Regions from separate parts of the Homo sapiens genome. Here region 2 is linked to region 1. Evidence: fine-mapped expression QTL. A gene starts in region 1. The other region holds a variant in brackets. All regions are shown on one strand. Distances are between the middles of the regions.

What was found.
Region 2: its variant is fine-mapped to the expression of UROS in whole blood (TOPMed, PIP 0.97).

The regions. Positions count from the first base shown.
Region 1 is chr10:125,818,333-125,827,165 of GRCh38, forward strand. It overlaps UROS (uroporphyrinogen III synthase), which reads right to left and starts at 4,926. Exons shown (of 10, transcript NM_000375.3): 1 at 4,697-4,926. BCCIP (BRCA2 and CDKN1A interacting protein) reads left to right here and starts at 5,214. Exons shown (of 7, transcript NM_078468.3): 1 at 5,214-5,390; 2 at 8,259-8,333. The coding sequence starts at 5,226. MIR4484 (microRNA 4484) reads left to right here and starts at 1,408; the gene lies at 1,408-1,490. RefSeq lists silencers at 4,573-5,002, 5,759-5,978 and enhancers at 4,854-5,539, 5,083-5,282.
Region 2 is chr10:125,792,206-125,801,038 of GRCh38, forward strand. UROS (uroporphyrinogen III synthase) reads right to left here. Exons shown (of 10, transcript NM_000375.3): 7 at 5,860-5,940; 8 at 3,898-3,983; 9 at 2,675-2,773. Among named protein-coding and RNA genes, the nearest start is that of MMP21, 21 kb to the left of the region's middle. The variant C/T (reference allele first, on the strand shown) is at 4,562.

The DNA of each region.
Region 1 (8,833 bases):
GTTGTTAACAAGGAGCCGGGCATAGTGGCGCATCCCTGTAGTCCTAACTACGCAGGAGGCTGAGGTGGGAGAATCACTTGAGCCCAGGAGTTCAAGGTTGCTGTGGGCTATAATCGTGCCACTGCACTCCAGCCTGGGTGACAGAGAAGGATCTTGTCTAAATAATAATAATAATAATAATAATATAAAATTAAAAGGTTCTGTTGTTGATGATTCTTTGCTGTGCTAGAGTCACATATTATCAGGCTGATTGGGAAAGAAATCAATTGAGAAGCGTGCACAGATAGGTTAACATGTCGCCACCTTGGGCTTTAGGAAGAGGCTTGGTGGAGTAGAGGGTGTTTGCACAGGAGGGCCAGTGTCTGGGTTCTGGTCTAGGCTGCTCTTGCCTCAGTCTCAGTTTCAGATTCCTGTACATTGGAAAGGGGCTGTGAGCCTCTCCATTGTTGGCTTTTTTGATGGACTTTCTTTCCTGTAGTAGATGCTCATTATTTGCTCACCTTGTGGGAAAACAACAATTTCAATTTTACCCAGCATCTTTGAAACAGAAAGAATGATTAATTTTCCTTAAAGTAAAATGGAGCACTTGTCCTTCAAGTTGCCTGCTTAGGTCTCTCCCAAGCATACTCTACTTTCTTTCCTGTTCTAAAGTTTTTTGTTGTTGTTTTTTGAGATGCAGTCCTGCTCTGTCGCCCAGGCTGGAGTGCAGTGGTGCAATCTCAACTCACTGCAACCTCCGCCTCCCGGGTTCAAGCGATTCTCCTGCCTCAGCCTCCTGAGTAGCTGGGACTACAGGCATGCGCCACCATGCCCAGCTAATTTTTGTATTTTAGTAGAGATGGGGTTTCAGCATGTTGGCCAGGATGGTCTCCATCTCTTAACCTCGTGATCCGGCTGCCTTGGCTTCCCAAAGTGTTGAGATTACAGGTGTGAGCCACTGCACCCGGCCTAAAGTTTTTTAAAATAAACTTCCACTCCTGCTCTGAAGCTTGCCTCGGTCACTTTTTCTGCCTTATGCCCCCAGTTGAATTTTCTTCTGAGGAGACAAGATTGAGGTTGCTGCAGGTGTCTACTGATTTGCCACTGGTAACATATTTGGTGCCACGTGACTCAGATGGTAAGGGATCTCTATGCCTCGCTTTCTTCTGCTGGAGGCATCTGATCCCTGTGCAGTTTTTCTTCTCCTCCCTCTCTCCTGCTTACTAAACAACCCCCAGAACAATTCCTCTTGGCCATACGTGACTCTGCTCTCTGCCAGTTGATTTCTTAGCTCACTCTGGTGGGTGGCTCATGGGAGTGGGAAGGACCCTAGGGTCTGCATCAAGCAGATCAGAGGCACTATATGGCCCTCCTTGATAGGAGGCTTGAGACTGGTGAGGCTAGGGCCTAAAAACCGTGCAGTGTCTGGGGTTTCCTCTGCCTTTTTTTCCAATGAAAATAACGAAACCTGTTATTTCCCATTGAGGGGGAAAAAGGCGGGAGAAGCCCCAGCAGAAATGAAGCTGCTCCTGAAGCTTCCAACATGAAACTCACCTCGGCACTGGTAAAAAGAGGGCTCAACCTGTCTCTAGATTTACAGTCTAATGCTTGCTCTGCCATTTTACCCTCATACTTATGTTCATCAATCATTGATGAAAAAGAAAAGAAAAAAAAAATGACTGGAATAAGGGCACCTTACTGGTAAGAAAGAACCAAACCTCAAACCCGTACCTTCTATGTCATGGTGTTCTGGGTATCAGCAATAACAACAGTCACCCTTTTACTGAGCATTTACTCATGTTAATTACTGGGTGTATTAGAGTTCTTCAGAGAAACAGAACCAATGGCATATATTTACATCTAGAAAGGGATTTGTTATAAGGTATTAGCTCATGCAGTTATGGAGGCTGAGAAGTCCCATGATCTGCTGTCTGCAAGCTGGAGACTTGTTAGCAGGAAGGCTGGTGTTGTAGCCTGAAGGCCTGAGAGCCAAGGGTGTAGGTTCCAGCCTGAGTGTGAAGGCCTCAGCACCAGGAGCACCAAGGGCAGAAGATATCCCAGATCAAGCATGCAGGAGGAGACAGGACACATTCTTCCTTCTTTGGCTTTTTGTTCTATTTAGGCCCTCAACAGACTGGATGCTGCCCACCTACTTTGGGGAGGGCAATCCACTTTACTCAGTCTATCCATTCAAATGCTCATCTTTTCTGAAAACAACTTCACAGACACACCAAGAAATAATGTTTAACCAGATATCTGGGCATCCGTGATCCAGTCAAGATGACATGTAAAAGTAACTATCACACTGGGCTAAGCATTTTACATGCAAGACTGCAATCCTCACTTAAACCTGCAAGGTAGGTGGTGTTAGCCTTATTTGCAGGAGGTGAAACCAAGTCCCTGGGAGGTTTGAGTAACTTGTCCCAGGTCACACAGCACAGTAAGTGGGAGAGATGGAATTTGGATCCTGGTCTGAAGCCCATGCTCAGTCTCCTAACCACTTGCTACCATCCCTCTGCCTCATTAAGATAAATTCTGAGCTAAAGATGAACACTGAACGAGTGGTAAGCAATCTACTACCTGCTGAGTTCAGTTCCCTAGGGTCAGTACTGTATTTACTTTCACATTCACTATTCTAATTCACACTTTGACCATGAGCTCAACACTGGGAACTAATCTGAGGGCATAAAGTAAGGCTTTTTCCCCTACTTGTCTTACAAAAGTGATCCTGTTTACTGTGAAAGATTTGCAAACTACAAAAAAGTATAGTTCCTCAAAAAAATAAACATAGAATTACCATATGATCTAGCAATTCCCCTGCTACATATATACCCCAAAGAATTGAAAGCAGGGACTCGAACAGATATTTGATACTCATGTTCATAGCAACATTATTTACAACAGCTAAAATGTAGAAGTAACCAAAATGTTTACCGACAGATAAGTAGATAAACAAAATGTGGTCTATACATGCAATGGAGTATTATTCAGCCTTAACAAGGAAGGAAATCCTAATGCATGCTACAGCATGGGATAAACTTTGAAGACATCATGCTGAATGAAATAGTCACAAAAGGAAGAATATTGTGTTACTCCACTTACATGAGGTTTCTAGAATAGTCAAATTAATAAAGATGGAAAGTAGAAAGGTCATGGAGGGAAAATAAGGGAGTTGTTTAACTACAGTTTCAATTTTGCTAGATGAAAAGAGTTCTGCCAATGGATAGTGGTGGTGATGGTTGCACAATGTGAATGCACTTCATGCCACTGAACTGTATCTTTAAAAATAGTTAAGATGGTAAAATGTATGTTATGTATCTTTTACCACCATAAAAAAAGTATAAAGAAACAGGAAAAAAAATTGGCTATGGTATCTCAGTGCAACTCTGTTGATATGTTCACATGGTCTTTCTGAGTCTTTTTTCTAATCTTAGCCTTTTGATGGGTCTTTTTTGACAGCTTCCTCTCTTCTCCATTACAGGAACATGTTTTTGCAGTTGTGCGACCCAAAGAGGCCATTTCAAGCTGCCCCATCAGATGTGGAGCGCTGATGTGTAAGTATTACTTTAATATCCATGACATGGCTGGGTAGACAAGAGACTCCCAGGAAAGACCGAAATCACAGAACACGATTATGGGCAATCTGGGCTCCTGGGGACCTTTAGGGCACGCCATCTCGTACTGATGAAGGATCACTGATTTATCAGATGTTACCCTGCTTAAACAGAAGCAGCCTATTAGCGCAGCTCACACCATTCCTAGAATCAAACATATCCAACCCACCCCCCTCATTTTACAGAGAAAAATCAATTGAGAACCGCAGATCTTATTCCTAGAAAGCTGATGAACCCTGTTTCTCTCGCAATGGGAAGACCTGGCTGCCCCAGGCTGCATCCCCACCTGCCACAGGGGCTGGCGCTCGCTCTGCAGTTGGCCGCAGTCCCCTCCACTCTTCTCTCCAAATAGGCTCGGGTCTTTAACCTAGACTACCCCACTGGCCCCGAAGCATTTTTTTTTTTTTTTAGATAGGGTCTACCTCTGTCGCCCAGGCTGGAGTGTGGAGTGCGGTGGCGCGATCTCGGCTCACTGCAACCTCCGTCTCCTGGGGGCATGCGATTCTCCTGCCTTAGCCTCCTGAGTAGCTGGGACTACAGGCGCGCACCACCACACCTGGCTAGTTTTTGTATTTTTAGTAGAGATGGGATTTCGCCATGTTGGGCAGGCTGGTCTCGAACTCCTGACCTCAAGTGATCCACCCATCTCGGCCTCCCAAAGTGCTGGGATTACAGGTGTCCGCCACCACGCCCGGCTAATTTTTGTACTTTTAGCAGAGATGAGGTTTTGCCATGTTGGCCAGGCTGGTCTCGAACTCCTGACCTCTGGTGATCCACCCGCTTTGACCTCCCTAAGTGCTGGGATTACAGGCGCGAGACACCGGGCCCGGCCCCCCGCCGAAGCATTTTTAACTGCGGTGCCGGCTTTAAAAAAACTTTTAGGTCAAGAAATGCGCTCCAGAAGCTCGGCGAGGGTAGGCTGGGCAGGCGCCTTCCGTCACCGGCGCAGCGGTAGCGGCAGCGGACATCCCCGCCTGGGCAGGCCCAGGTCCGCGGAAGCCTCGGGGCCCTGGCCCCACTGTGTCACACACCGCCCGGGGCCGGGCCCCTGCACGCCCGCGGGCTTCGGCGTCCGTACCGGTACAGCGGGCGGCGACACCTACCTCGCGGGACCGTGCCCAGCACCCGGCCTGGCACACAGCGGGCACCCGGTCGGGGGGCGGTGTCGCGCAGTCCCAGCGAAAAGGCTGCAGGAGCAATGACAACAGGGGCGGAAGCCCCCTCCCCACGCAGCCCGAGGGGCCGCGGCGGCCACCCGCGCCGGGCCCCAGGACCCCGCACCTCAGACTGGGGTCGCGTGGGTGGCTGCGCGCAGCTAGGCGCTCGCGCATGCGCACCGCCATCCAGGCCACGGAATGAGGCCAGAGGTTAGATGGGTTGAACCACTACGGGAAGGGGAGGGGAAGCTTTGGGAGGAGTGATGGAGGGTGGAAAGCGGAAGAAAAAAGCAAGATGGGACCGCAAGCTGGACGTGACTGTAAGGGGTCATGGCTGCGGAATCCAGCAGGGGCATTGGGGTTGACGTGCACTCAGCGCCGAGCTTCTTCGTAGTTCCTCACCCCCTTGGCTACTATGGGCTGGTCCGGAAGGTCAGGCAAGGGGAAGCTGCGCAGGCGCAGTGTGAGCGGCAACATGGCGTCCAGGTCTAAGCGGCGTGCCGTGGAAAGTGGGGTTCCGCAGCCGCCGGATCCCCCAGTCCAGCGCGACGAGGAAGAGGAAAAAGAAGTCGAAAATGAGGATGAAGACGATGATGACAGTGACAAGGAAAAGGATGAAGAGGACGAGGTCATTGACGAGGTGAGAAGGACACGCTCCCCTAGTTGGTTTATACCTGAGAAAAACTTTTTGGCAAGCCCAGGCTGTGTAAAAATAGTGTAGGGTCTTCCCTGACCCTGAGGGTCTGTGAGGAGAAACTGGAGATAAGTTCTTTCTCAGGTTTCTCCTCGGTCTTTAACACACTGCAGCCATAGTAGTTATTTTTTAAAGGTCTAGTCCGGTCCAGTTAATCTCCCAACCCGCGTCCTCCCCGAAAAAGCCCGCCACAACAGGTGTGTTCTTCTCGTCCTCTTTAGTTCTCAGGCTGAAGCCTCAGATCCTGAATCGGCCACCCCGGGCTCGCAGAGGGGGCCCTCTCCCCTCGGGGCAGCAGCTGTCCTCCTCTTCACTCTGCGGGCGGCACTCACTTGGGCCCTCAGTTTCTTGAAGGCTCTTGCCGCGTTCTACCGTAGAAGCCTTTTCAAATGCTCTTCTTTATCCTGCAGTTTTCCCTTCCTTCTTCAGATCTCAGCTAGGCTGTATTTTCTGGCTCCTGGGGCAGCTGACCAAGTCGTGGGTAAATCTTTGGTTTCATAGTCTCATAGAACTGTGTTCCTTTCTTCAGACTAGGTCCTACCGTAGTGCCTGGCAATATAGGTACTTATTATTTGTTTAGTAAACAATTAGGACTGAATGATCCTTCAGCCTACTGAATGTTTAAATAGATACCTCAGCCTTAACTTGTCCAAAGCAGAATTTGTATAATAATTCATGCCCCTCTCTTAATCGTCACCATTTCTATAAATGGCCCCTAAAGTCACCAGCTGCTCTAACCCAAAACCTGGGGCTTAACTTTAATTCCTCCCTTTCCTCATCCTATATCCAGCCCATCAGTAAATCCTGTTATCCAGACATTTCTCAGCACTAATTCTGAGACCATCGTAGTCCACACCTCTATCATCTCTTGCCTGGACTACTATTTAATGTAACAGCTTTTAACCGGCGTTCTTTTCTCCATTTTTGTTCCCCTACAATCAGTCTATACTCCACTTACAGTCAGAGAGATCTTATAGGTCTGATCTCAGGCCTCTGCTTAGATTGCTGCATTGGCTTTCTAGTTCATTTACAAGAAAATCAAGAGTCTTCACAATTGAGGGACGGAAAGGCAGCCTAGATGGCTGGATCAGAATAAGGAAGAGAGAGTGATAGGAAATAAAATCAGAGAGGTAATCATGAGTCATGATGAGCATGGAGGGGAGCATGGAGAGAAGCATGGATGCAGGATTAGAGGTGACACCATGGTGTGGGTATGTGATCAATCTTCCTTCCCTTACAAATTTTACTTTGGCTCTATGCCTTGAATGCCATCTCACCATTTTTCACTTAGAACTTTGACTGGCTCTTTTATTACTTTTGGGTTATAGAAATCAATGCTGCTTGTGTTAACATGGGAAATCTATCACACCACCACAGTCTTAATTCTAAATCACCTGGGAATGAGGGACAGGGCTCTTTTCTACAAACGTGACTGTTCCTGCTGAAGCCATGTGGAGATGAGCCCATACCCAGGAAAAGGGTGCTGGACAGATAATCCATTTGCCGCCCATTTCCCTGGTGGTGCCATAATAGTCTGGGACAGAGGTCCGAGATGTCTGTCTAGACAAAGAAAAAAACACTAGATGAGCATTATTTACAGAATGTATTTATATCTAAGGAATAAGTTTAAGTCCTGAATAATGACAGTTTGTTATTTGGTTTAGTTTGATCCTGTTTGGAACACTCCCACCCGACCCCTTGTGTTTTGCTGCTCACATAATCTGGCTAAGTTAGCATTTGAAGTCTGCAAAGCTGGACTTAAAGAGTTCAAATTGGAGCTGGAATTGCTCTAAGCAATTCCAGGGCCTTGCAATTTTACAATTAAGGAAGACTTAAATATATACATAGTCAGGGTGGCAAGGTAAAAGGAGGTCTGATTTCCTCTGCGATGTTCTTCAGCTAAGACCTAAATTCTGAAACCGTTAAAACCTGAAGTGCCTTTAAATATATTATTTCATCAGAGCCCCAGGTTCATTGTGTCACTTATCAAGGTCTGATTTAGGGTCCTCAAGGACTAATCTTGTTAGTGTTTAAAAGCAACTAGGTTTTGTTTTTGGCATTTTAGTTCCATCTTCTAGATTCTGTTGTCTTGCAGATAGAGATCAGGGAGCCCAGCTACACATTCATTCTTCTAGTCCCTTGTACTCATTGTATTTCCTTCTGCCTTAGGGCCTTAGTTTGTGCTGTTCCCTGTACCAGGAACTCTCTTTGCTGTTTCTCGGTTTCTTGCTCAAATGTCACTTCAAGGAAGGCTTTCCTGACTGACTTCTTATTTTTTAAGTTGTTACAACATTGTGTACCTTTGTTTTATAGCACTTACATTTATTTCTATGAATATTTCCTTAATGCCTATATTCCTTCCTAAATCGTAAGCTGCACGAGAGCAGGATCATTTGTGTCTGCCTTACTAACCTTTTCATCTTGAGTGCCTGGCACAGTGCTTGGTACCTGGATTGATACTTAATAAATATTTGCTAAGCAAATGTAGTGTAACCTCAAATCCATGGGCTAAGTCAAGCTCTAGGCAATTCCAGGGACTTTTGAAGTGATTTTGATTTTTGCCCACCCTTGTAATCAGGAAAATAATTTATCCTTTGTGGCTGCCGTGTCTGGTTTATTTGAACTGGACTTTCTCAACATTTAAACTAGGTTACTCTGAGTGTTTTGTTTTCTCAGGCTTTTGTGTCACCTGAAGAAATAGTGTGAAGGTGCTTTGTATTCTTCACAGATGGCAATCTTGGCAATGTTTGCCTGTTTTAAAGTCTAGATGTTTGTAGTTTTTCTGGTAACAACTATTTTGTGTGTTATTTACAGGAAGTGAATATTGAATTTGAAGCTTATTCCCTATCAGATAATGATTATGACGGAATTAAGAAATTACTGCAGCAGGTATTGTCTTTTATTTATTATGCATAAATTTCCTCTTCTAAGAAAAATCAGGGGCCGGGTGCAGTGGTTCATGCCTATAATCTCAGCATTTTGGAAGGCCGAGGTGAGAGGATTGCTTGAGCCCAGGAGTTTGAGACCAGCCTGGGCAACATAATGAGAACCTGTCTCTACAAAAAAATTAAAAATTAGCCAACTGTGGTAGCACACACCGTTAGTCCTAACTCCTCAGGAGGCTGAGGCTGGAGGATTACTTGAGTCTAAGAGCTCAAGGCTGCAGCTATGAATGTGCCATTGAGCTCCAGTCTGGGCAACAGAGTGAGCCTCTGTCTCTAAAAAAAAAGAAAATTCAGGTCATTCAATACAGGCTCTCCCAAGTTCATCTTTTTAGAATTTCCATTTCTATCCTCTCCACCTTGCCTGGAAGGAAGAATTATTTCCTTTCATCTGCTAATTAGAGTTATTTTGTTTTTTTTTTTAATTCACAATTCTTATGTAACAGT
Region 2 (8,833 bases), 26 kb before region 1:
TGGCAAACATGACTGTAGTCCTAGAGCAGGGGTATCAACAGTTTGGTGAAACAGCAGCTTTTTCACAGGAGCCTTTCACTCCTGTGTCAATGAATGCTCACATGATGCTGCCCCACAGAGCAGCAGTCTTCCCCAGGCCAGGCGAGGGGGCCCAGCATCAACGTTCTTTCTCCATCCCTGGCACAAACTGGACGTGAGTGCACCAGCCTGGCTTTGGGGGCAGCAGCCACGTTCACAGCCTGGCTCTGCCACTGTGGCTAGTGAGCACTAGGTGTGAAGATACCCACCTCACAGGCTGCAAGGGCATTTTGCTGTACACAGGAAATTCAGCTGCTGCCATTAGTGTGGTGGTGGTGATTACGAATCTGCTTACCTACTGCTTTGCAGTGACATCTCTGTGGCATTTATAGACAAGTGCGTGGTCTTCCCAAGTCAATGGATAAGTAGCAAGTTCAGGTCGGAAGTCACCCCCTTTGATCTTTTGTGGTGCGCCTGCATGTTGTGCAATGCTGTACAAACAGTGGGCCCTACAGGGACTCCTGGGGAGGGAGGACAGTAGCAAATCTGAGGCTGAGCTGAGACAGAAAAGCCTAACTACCAACTCACGGGCTAGGACTGTGTCCTCTGTGAACCTTGAAAGCACCTCACTATCCAGCGCCAAGTCCCAGTGTCGAGGGACAACTCACAACCCACACACAGTGCCTTCGTGGCCCCCAAGCAGTCCATAGTCACTGTGAGCAAGGCCAGCTCTGTCACTTTCTCCTCCTCAGCAATGGCAGAGGTGTTAACTACTGGCAGGCAGGGTAATCAATCACTGTAGTAAGAGGCGAGGGGGCTACTGAGAGCTCCTCAGAGTGTCTGGAGGGCTGCAGAAATGGGTGTGACAGATACAGGATAGGAACACGCACTCAGCCCCCAGCTGCCATGGGTGTGGACAATGCAGGCAGCAGTCTATTCAGAAAGGCCTGAGTTCTTGGTTCAGATGCTGAGTATCCATTTGTGCTTTTAAATATGCTCACTTTGAAAGAAGATAGAGTATAAATCTTTTGTTCTTCCTCTAGGCAAACACTAAGAAGCTTGGGGAAAACTGTGTTAGGCTTATACCACCAGGCATCTCACAGCATTGTGTGACTTGGGGGTGGGTGGGTGGGGTGGAGGTGGGGACTCCTCCTACAGGCCCAGGGGAGAGGCAGCAGGGCACAGAGGGACAAGAACCAGAGCAGGACCAGCACCGTGACCCATCCTGACCTGCAATATGACGTAAGCGCTGGTCATATGGACCAGTTGCCATGCTAAGCACTTTATGGGTCCTATCTCTTTAATTTTTCTTTTTCTTTCTTTTTTTCTTTTATGGGGCAGGTACGGAGTTTCACTCTTGTCACCCAGGCTGGAGTGCCGTGGCGCGATCTCGGCTCACTGCAACCTCAGTCTCCAGGGTTCAAGCGATTCTCCTGTCTCAGCCTCCCATGTAGCTGGGATTATAGGCGCATGCCACCATGCCCAGCTAATTTTTATATTTTTAGTAAAGACGGGGTTTTCATCATATTGGACAGGCTGGTCTGGAACACCTGACCTCAGGTGATCCGCCTGAGGCCTCCCAAAGTGCTGGGATTCCAGGTGGGAGCCACAGCGCCCGGCCTCTCTCTAATCTTTCTAACCACAAGATTCAGATATTGTTTTTCTTCCTCGGTGACCTGTGTGAGTCCTGGGCCTTCTAGGAACTCAAAACATGACTTTGGCAAGTTGTTTCACCTCTCTAGCCCTCAGTGTCCTCACCTGTAATGAGGAACACTGACCTCTTTTTCTGGATACCCACCACTGGACTGGTGTGAGAATTGTATCAGTTACTGCCCAGAAGTGCATCAACTGCTCAGCAGCTCCTGAGACCATGGCAAGGCATCACCATGGCTGACAATGTGGAATCAGTCTTCCCAGGTTCAACTGCAGCTCTTCCTTCTCAGCAGTGTGACCTACAGACAGGCCATATGATGTCTCTGAGCCCCGTGCTCCATCTTTAAAACTGGGAGAGCGGTGCATACTCCCCACATGAGATGCACCTGTGAGAAGGCAGGTGAAGCCTTTTGCTCTTCCTGACTGCAGTGAGTGGCAGTGTCTGTCCTTGGGCTCTGGGTCACATCCTGCACCCTCTCCTCAGTCCCTCTGGAGCCAGTTCAAGGGTGTTTCTATTACAGACACAAGAGTTGTGGTTATTTGTAGACTCATAATAAATACAGTCCCTAGTAAGTGAGAATGTAAACCCTTTAAAAGATATGAAAAAGGTGACTGCTTTTAGAATAGACAATAATGGCAAACATAAGATGGGGGAAAGGAAGGAAAGGATGTTAACACCTGTACCAAGCCCTGAGCTAATTCAGGACTTTACTCAAATTCCCTCATGTAATCCTGAGACTCATCCTAAGCAGGGAAGACCATACACATGTCTATGAAAGCCACAGAGAGACAATTATCCCCATGCTGCAAGTGAGGAAACGGGCTGGGAGAAGGTGAGCAATCTGTGCAACAGCCCAGCAGGAGGTAGAGCTGCCCTTCCAATTCTAAGGCACCTGCTAGGCCAGGGGTGTCTCACTTGACATTGAAGCCCTAGGATAATTCATAAAGATTAAAAAAAAAAAAAAGAATCTGAAAAAGACCAAAAGCTCATTGAATAACTTACCTTAATTTGATCGATATTGTCACCAGATAACTCCTGAATGTGCTTGAGACTGTATGTGAGGCCAGAGGGACTAAAAAATGTGATGCTGGCTGGAACCCCCTGTGGGGAACAGAAAACAAGATCAGTCCTTGCCATGAGACTGAGGAGAGACAACATTCCTCCGGCTTCATCCGCATCAAGACCTCAAGCCACAGGCCACCAAGGCGGTTTTAGCACAGGAGTGGTTCCCGGCTGATGCTGGCATCCTCTGCTCCAGTGAGGCAGGATTCTGGTAGGGAACTGTTGGAAAGAGCAGGCTGCCATCAGAAAGCTGGTGCTGCCCCAGGTCTGTGTCTGCCTGGCCAGAGGACATGGGCATCCCGGAGCTCATGTGCCCAGCAGCCTAGACAATGCCTCTAGCTCCTGTGGTCATACGGCACTGATCACATGAGGCAGTGGTGTGAGGCAGTGCTGGCTCCCTGTCAATGCTCCCTCCCTCTGGAAGCAGAGCAAGCAGACAAGCCTGCCTGGCCTTTTTGCATTTGGTTTGTCCTATCAGGCCCTCCCAATACCAGGCAAGACATTCAGAAGCTTGCCCTGGGAGAGGAAAGGGAGGTGTTTTACTGCATATAAATGCTGAAGACATCAAGGAACTCAAGCAAGAGCTATCCATTCTCCTGCCTGAGTCCTCCAACAGTCCCCACGGACTCCCAAATTCAATCCAGACTCCTTGGTGGCCACTGTCAGCTCTTCCCACTATGGGCTCAGCCTCCCTCTCCAGTGTCTGCCCCTCCAGCTCCACCAGCATCCCCGTATGATGAATAGCAATGATAACATCAAGGCCACTATTTACCTCAGGGTTGTATGTATCTTCGATGCTGTACAAAAAGCTTTGCGTAAATTATCTCCTTTAACCCCTATAAAAACTTACCACTTCCTCAAAGTCACCACATTAATCTCTCCAAAGAGGGAGATTTCATAGACCACCTACTACAAGCACCTCTTACCGAAATCACTGATTTCAAACCAGCTTGCAATAGACATTTCATGAAACAACCACAAAATTGTTTCCATTCCTAATTCTAGAATCCCAGACCAACTATGTGACAGGAAAAGGCATGCAGGTGACAGCTGGGGACAGTGAAACCACATATAGAACCAACATCTATCAGCTCGTGCCCTTCACCCTCTGCTTCCCCACCTGGGCACCCACCCTGCCAGAACCGCCCCCAAACGCCACGTACCTGCTGGGAATAGTAGCTGTTCAGGTTCCCTTGGATTCCTGGGTGTGCAACTGTCTGATACACAGTTATGCTTTCCATGGCAATCCCTGGGCACAATCAAAAGCAGGAAAGACTTTACCGCACTGGGCACACAATGGGGCCTCCACCACTTCACAGCACAGTTGGTGAAACCTCCCAATACAGCACCACCCTCCTGGAACGAGCTGCTTGGAAGCTGAGAGGCCAGACTCAGCAGAGAGGCCTTGAACAGTCCTCTGCAGCCTGCTAAACGCTGTGGAGTGGTCCGGTGGAAGAGGAGGCTGAGACGGCAGAAAAAGAACAAAGGCCCAGAAACCAAAGCCTTCATTTGTACCCAGAATGCCTTTTGTTCCCAGGCTTATGTAGGTTTGTCCACACAAGGCCGTCCCTAGTCACTCCATGGATCCCACACAGACTGGTTGCATGACACCAGCAAGTGTAGGAAGGGCAGCTCTTGGGAGAGGCCTGGAGTCCAGATCCCCGGCTGCACTCCAGCTGTGCCTCCACATGGCCACGCGTCCCCTCTCTGGGCCTCAGTGTGTCCACTTGTACAAGAACTGATTAAGCCGTGGACTTTCCCACATTCCTCCCTGTGCCATTCAGCGACTCTGAATATTCCCAGGGGTTTTCAGGGCTGGTGATGAGG[C/T]GCTAGGCACTGAAGGGACTCACGCAATTTCAGTCAGATATTGACTTATGAGGGGCAGCCAGATGGTAGGTGAAAAGTAGTGAAAACTCAGGCTTCTGAAAATAAAATGGGAAACTCTCTCAGAAGAAATGATAACTTCAGCATAAAACAGCAACCTATTGCCATTTCATATCCCTGAAAACTAAAGAAATAAACTGAAGTATCAAACCTCTGATTTATATATTATTTCTTTAAGGGTAACTGAGACCAAGCTTTCTCTTATTTTATCCTGGTATTTTCTTGTTCCCGAAAAGCTAATGATTTTGCTGATCTTATTACCTAATGTCCTCTGCCTTTATTCCTGGTAGCTTTAGAAGACAGATGATATGGGTAGAAGGGATACGATCTAGCTCCATTTTAATACGGGGGGAAAGTTACAAGGTCTAAGGTCATCCTGGGTCACACTGCTCATGTGGACTATTAGAGCTTCAAAACCCTGGGAGAGACAGTAACAGTCATAGTTCCATGGAGAGCTTGCCTTTGGAGAACAAGGTGTCATGCTACATGATCTCTGAACACCTCTATGAGGCAGGTACCATGGTTATGTACAGATAACCATATTTCACAGATAAGGATACTGATGCACAGAGAGATTACATCACTTACCTTCATTCACATAGCTAATAAACAGCAAGAGGGAGAATTCAAATCTGTTTTTATCTCATCCGAAAGCTGGTACTCCAAACCACTGATAGACTTTGCTCCCAGACTAACTATGTGACAGCAAAAGGTGCGCAGGTGACAGCTAAGACATCTGCATCGAGGACGGCAGCATGCTTCAGAGGCAAGAACTGGTTTCTAGGTGCTGACAGTCTTGGGAGCCACGGCAGGTGGAGCTGGAGGGGCAGGTGGAGCTTGTGTGGCTCGGCTGGAGGGTGCTGCATGCTATTATAAGATCGGCTACATTTGTAGACTTTCTTCTACATGTGGAACCAATTCTATGGTTTGTCACCTCAGTTATCTGCCCAGGGGCCACCTCCACATCTCGATCTCCTGTCCTCTTGGTGAAGGACTGGAGACACACTGTGTGCTCCTAGCTTGAGCTAACAAGCTGGGAAGAGTGGATCCAAAGAAAGGAAAGTGCAGACTGCACGTCCACTCTTCCCATGAGCATGGTCTCTGTGTCTCCTGGCCTGGCTTATCCAACCCAGCCCTGCTCTCCCTTGTGTGCTCTCTGCAGGGCCACCCACTTCTATCACTGCAAAGGCTCCTGGTGGATCCCAAAGTGGTAAGGGATGCAGTCAAAGCATTCTACTCGCCTTTGTCCTTGAGCGCTTTTGGCAGGATTTCTCTTTTGAGGTTTCCACAGGGAAATAGAAGAGGCAGTGCTGAGGACTCCCCTGTGAATAAATAACCAGGCTTTGTGAAAACTCAGGGCCAGTGCCTGTGCACAGGGGAATGGGGAGGGGCAGCTTTGGGAAGGGGGAAGCAGCCCTGGGCTCCAGGCCTGGCTCTGCTTCTAGGACTCAGTTTCAGCATCTGTAAACAGGAAGAGCACCTGCTACCTTGCCGAACTTGAAGGGTTGTTATATGAAGATCATAAGAGGTAATGTGTGTGGAGGTGCTCAGAAAATGAACATCCACACAAACAAGTTAGCCACATTCTTTTAACTCCTTCTGATCCTGAAGTGACTCCCTAGCCTGCAGTCACTATTTAGAAGGCAGACTTTGCACCTTAACTAAGTCAGGAAGGTGAAGATCAGGCCTGGTGCTGACTGGCACTGGGGCAAACATTTTCTACCTTTAAAGAGGCTCCAGATGAGCCAGGGCTCATGCTCAGGAGGCAGCCGGTAACCGGCAGCCAGGAGTGGCTCTGCAGCCACCCCCAACAAAGACAAGCTCACTGCCCACTCCTCTTCTAGCCACACCAACAGCCACTAGGCCAAGTGCCAAAAGGCGAATGCACAGGCCTTAGAGAGAGAAGCCTGCTAAGAACGGCCTGCCTCTCCTTTCACCACAACCTCTGCTCCCAGCATCTCCACTCTGGGAAGACTTAAGGGCATTTTCAGCCCTTAACTCTTTGCAGAATAGTGAGGACAGCATAGGATTTGAATGCCAATTTGCAACAATACTGTCCAAAAAAGCTGATAAGTTGTCAAATGCCAGAATCTTCCCCAAATGTGAAAACACAGCATTTTAGTAGAACCAGCCATTACCCCCCACATCCATCCGTAAGACATAAGAAATTTTAATGGGCGTTATTCATACACATTGTATATTTTCTCACATCCTTATGATCTCTCTGATCACATCTTCTCTGGTGACTACAACGAGAGGAAGGAGCAAAACAACCCCTTTCCATCCAGTACCACCTCTAGCAAGCAGCAGCCAAACAACAGGAATAACTGCAGGCCACTTAATTTCAAGTGTATAAAGGCTACATACTGGTGAATGTTTTCTTTATTTAAACTGCTCTGTAAATATCTGTACCAACATAAAATAAAATAATGAATTGGGAGATTGTTAAATTCGTTAATAGATGCCTGCTGATTTCTCTCTTCCAGTGCGAGGAAATGTTTTCATGCTCTGCATCCCTAGAGACATATTTTCAAAGCCATGTTCAGAGGCAATTTTCTTCCCCGTTTCTGTGTGTCTATGTGTGTGTTGGGGAATGCAGGGTGGAAGATGTTAGGGGCCAAAGCTCTTCCTGGGGATCCAGTAAGAGAACTACAGTCCAGTTTTTCAGCAAGCCCAGCCCCACAGGTGTGCGAGGGGCCTTGGAAAGAGTCAGGAATCTTCCCTTGGCAGCACCTCTTGTGAGGGTCCAGTGGAGTCCTGAGCTGCTCATTCTTATCTCTGACTCACAAGGCTGGGCCGAAGGGGTACGCGGCTCCCTGAGGGCAGCTGCTTGTCTCTATCTCTCCACCACCTGTGCCTTGCAGAGAGCTTGGCTCTGCAGGCACACAGGGCCCACAAATGTCCAACCAGCTCAGCTGACTTCACTGAAAAGGCACCACCCTGTCAGCAGAAAGGAGAAAATTGAAAATGTCCTGGCTGAGTCCTCCTTTGCTGGTGAGGAGAGATCTACAACTACATGTCCTGAAAACTAGCCCACTTCAAAAAGCCAAAGACAAAGGAGTTATTCCCTTTTGGAATATGCTTAATGCCTGGGGATTTATCTTCAGCCCCAACAGGCCAATGGGATGGTTAAGGCTGACACAGAGATAGTGAACTGTGGAGCTCAAAGGCTCTGCTCTCCGTTCGTTTAACAGGAAGAAGGCCTGGAATTCTGGGCTGTCCGGGCTGATGATGAGTAATAACACTGAAAATCCTAACACAGTATTATTATTACGCAGCTCAGGAGGGGGCTTGATAAAGTCACTGCAGGCAATTAAGAAAATGATGATACAAGCAGGAGGCAGACAAATGCCTAGGCAGATAGGGAAGGGTCCCCGGTGAGACCTCACCTTCAAGCCCAGAACAGCCTGAAGTCTGAAAGACCAGATTGCTGGTCCCAGATGAAACCAGCGACCCAGGGGCAGAACGTCTGCCCGTTTGTCTGCCCTTTCCCAATTGATTCTTTCCGAATAATGCCTTTTAACCAATCAAATGTTGCCTTTTCCGATACTACCTATGGTTTACCTGGGCATCCTCGTGTGCGTGCTGGGGGAACGGGGCGGAGTCACTAGGATTCGCACCTTACGCAGGGGAGGAGCCTGGCCTCATCAGCTCATGTGTGGTACCCCTGGTATTCAATAATGAGGGAGAAACCTGCTTGGAGAATCCCTCTCTTTGTTGAGAGCTTTTCTTTCTTTCTTTCTTTTTTTTTTTTTTGTGACGGAGTCTCACTCTTTCACCCAGGCTGGAGTGCAGTGGTGCAATCTCAGCTCACTACAACCTCTGCCTCCTGGGCTCATGCAATTCTCCTGCCTCAGCCTCCTGAGTAGCTGGGATTACAGACGCGGCCACCAAGCCCAGGTAATTTTTGTATTTTTAGTAGAGATGGGGTTTCACCATGTTGGCCAGAACTCCTGACCTGGTCTCAAACTCCTGACTTCAGGTGATCCACCTGCCTCGGCCTCCCAAAGTGCTGGGATTACAGGAGTGAGCCACTGCGCCCAGCTGAGGGCTTTCCTTTCACTTAATAAGTTCTGCCCTTCTCACCCTTCAATGTGTCCACATGCCTAATTTTTCCTGGTCATGAGACAAGAACCCAGATTTAGCTGAATTAAGGAGCAAAAAGTCCTGCATCAATGACACTGACTTTTTAAAATGTCATCTTACTGAAGGACG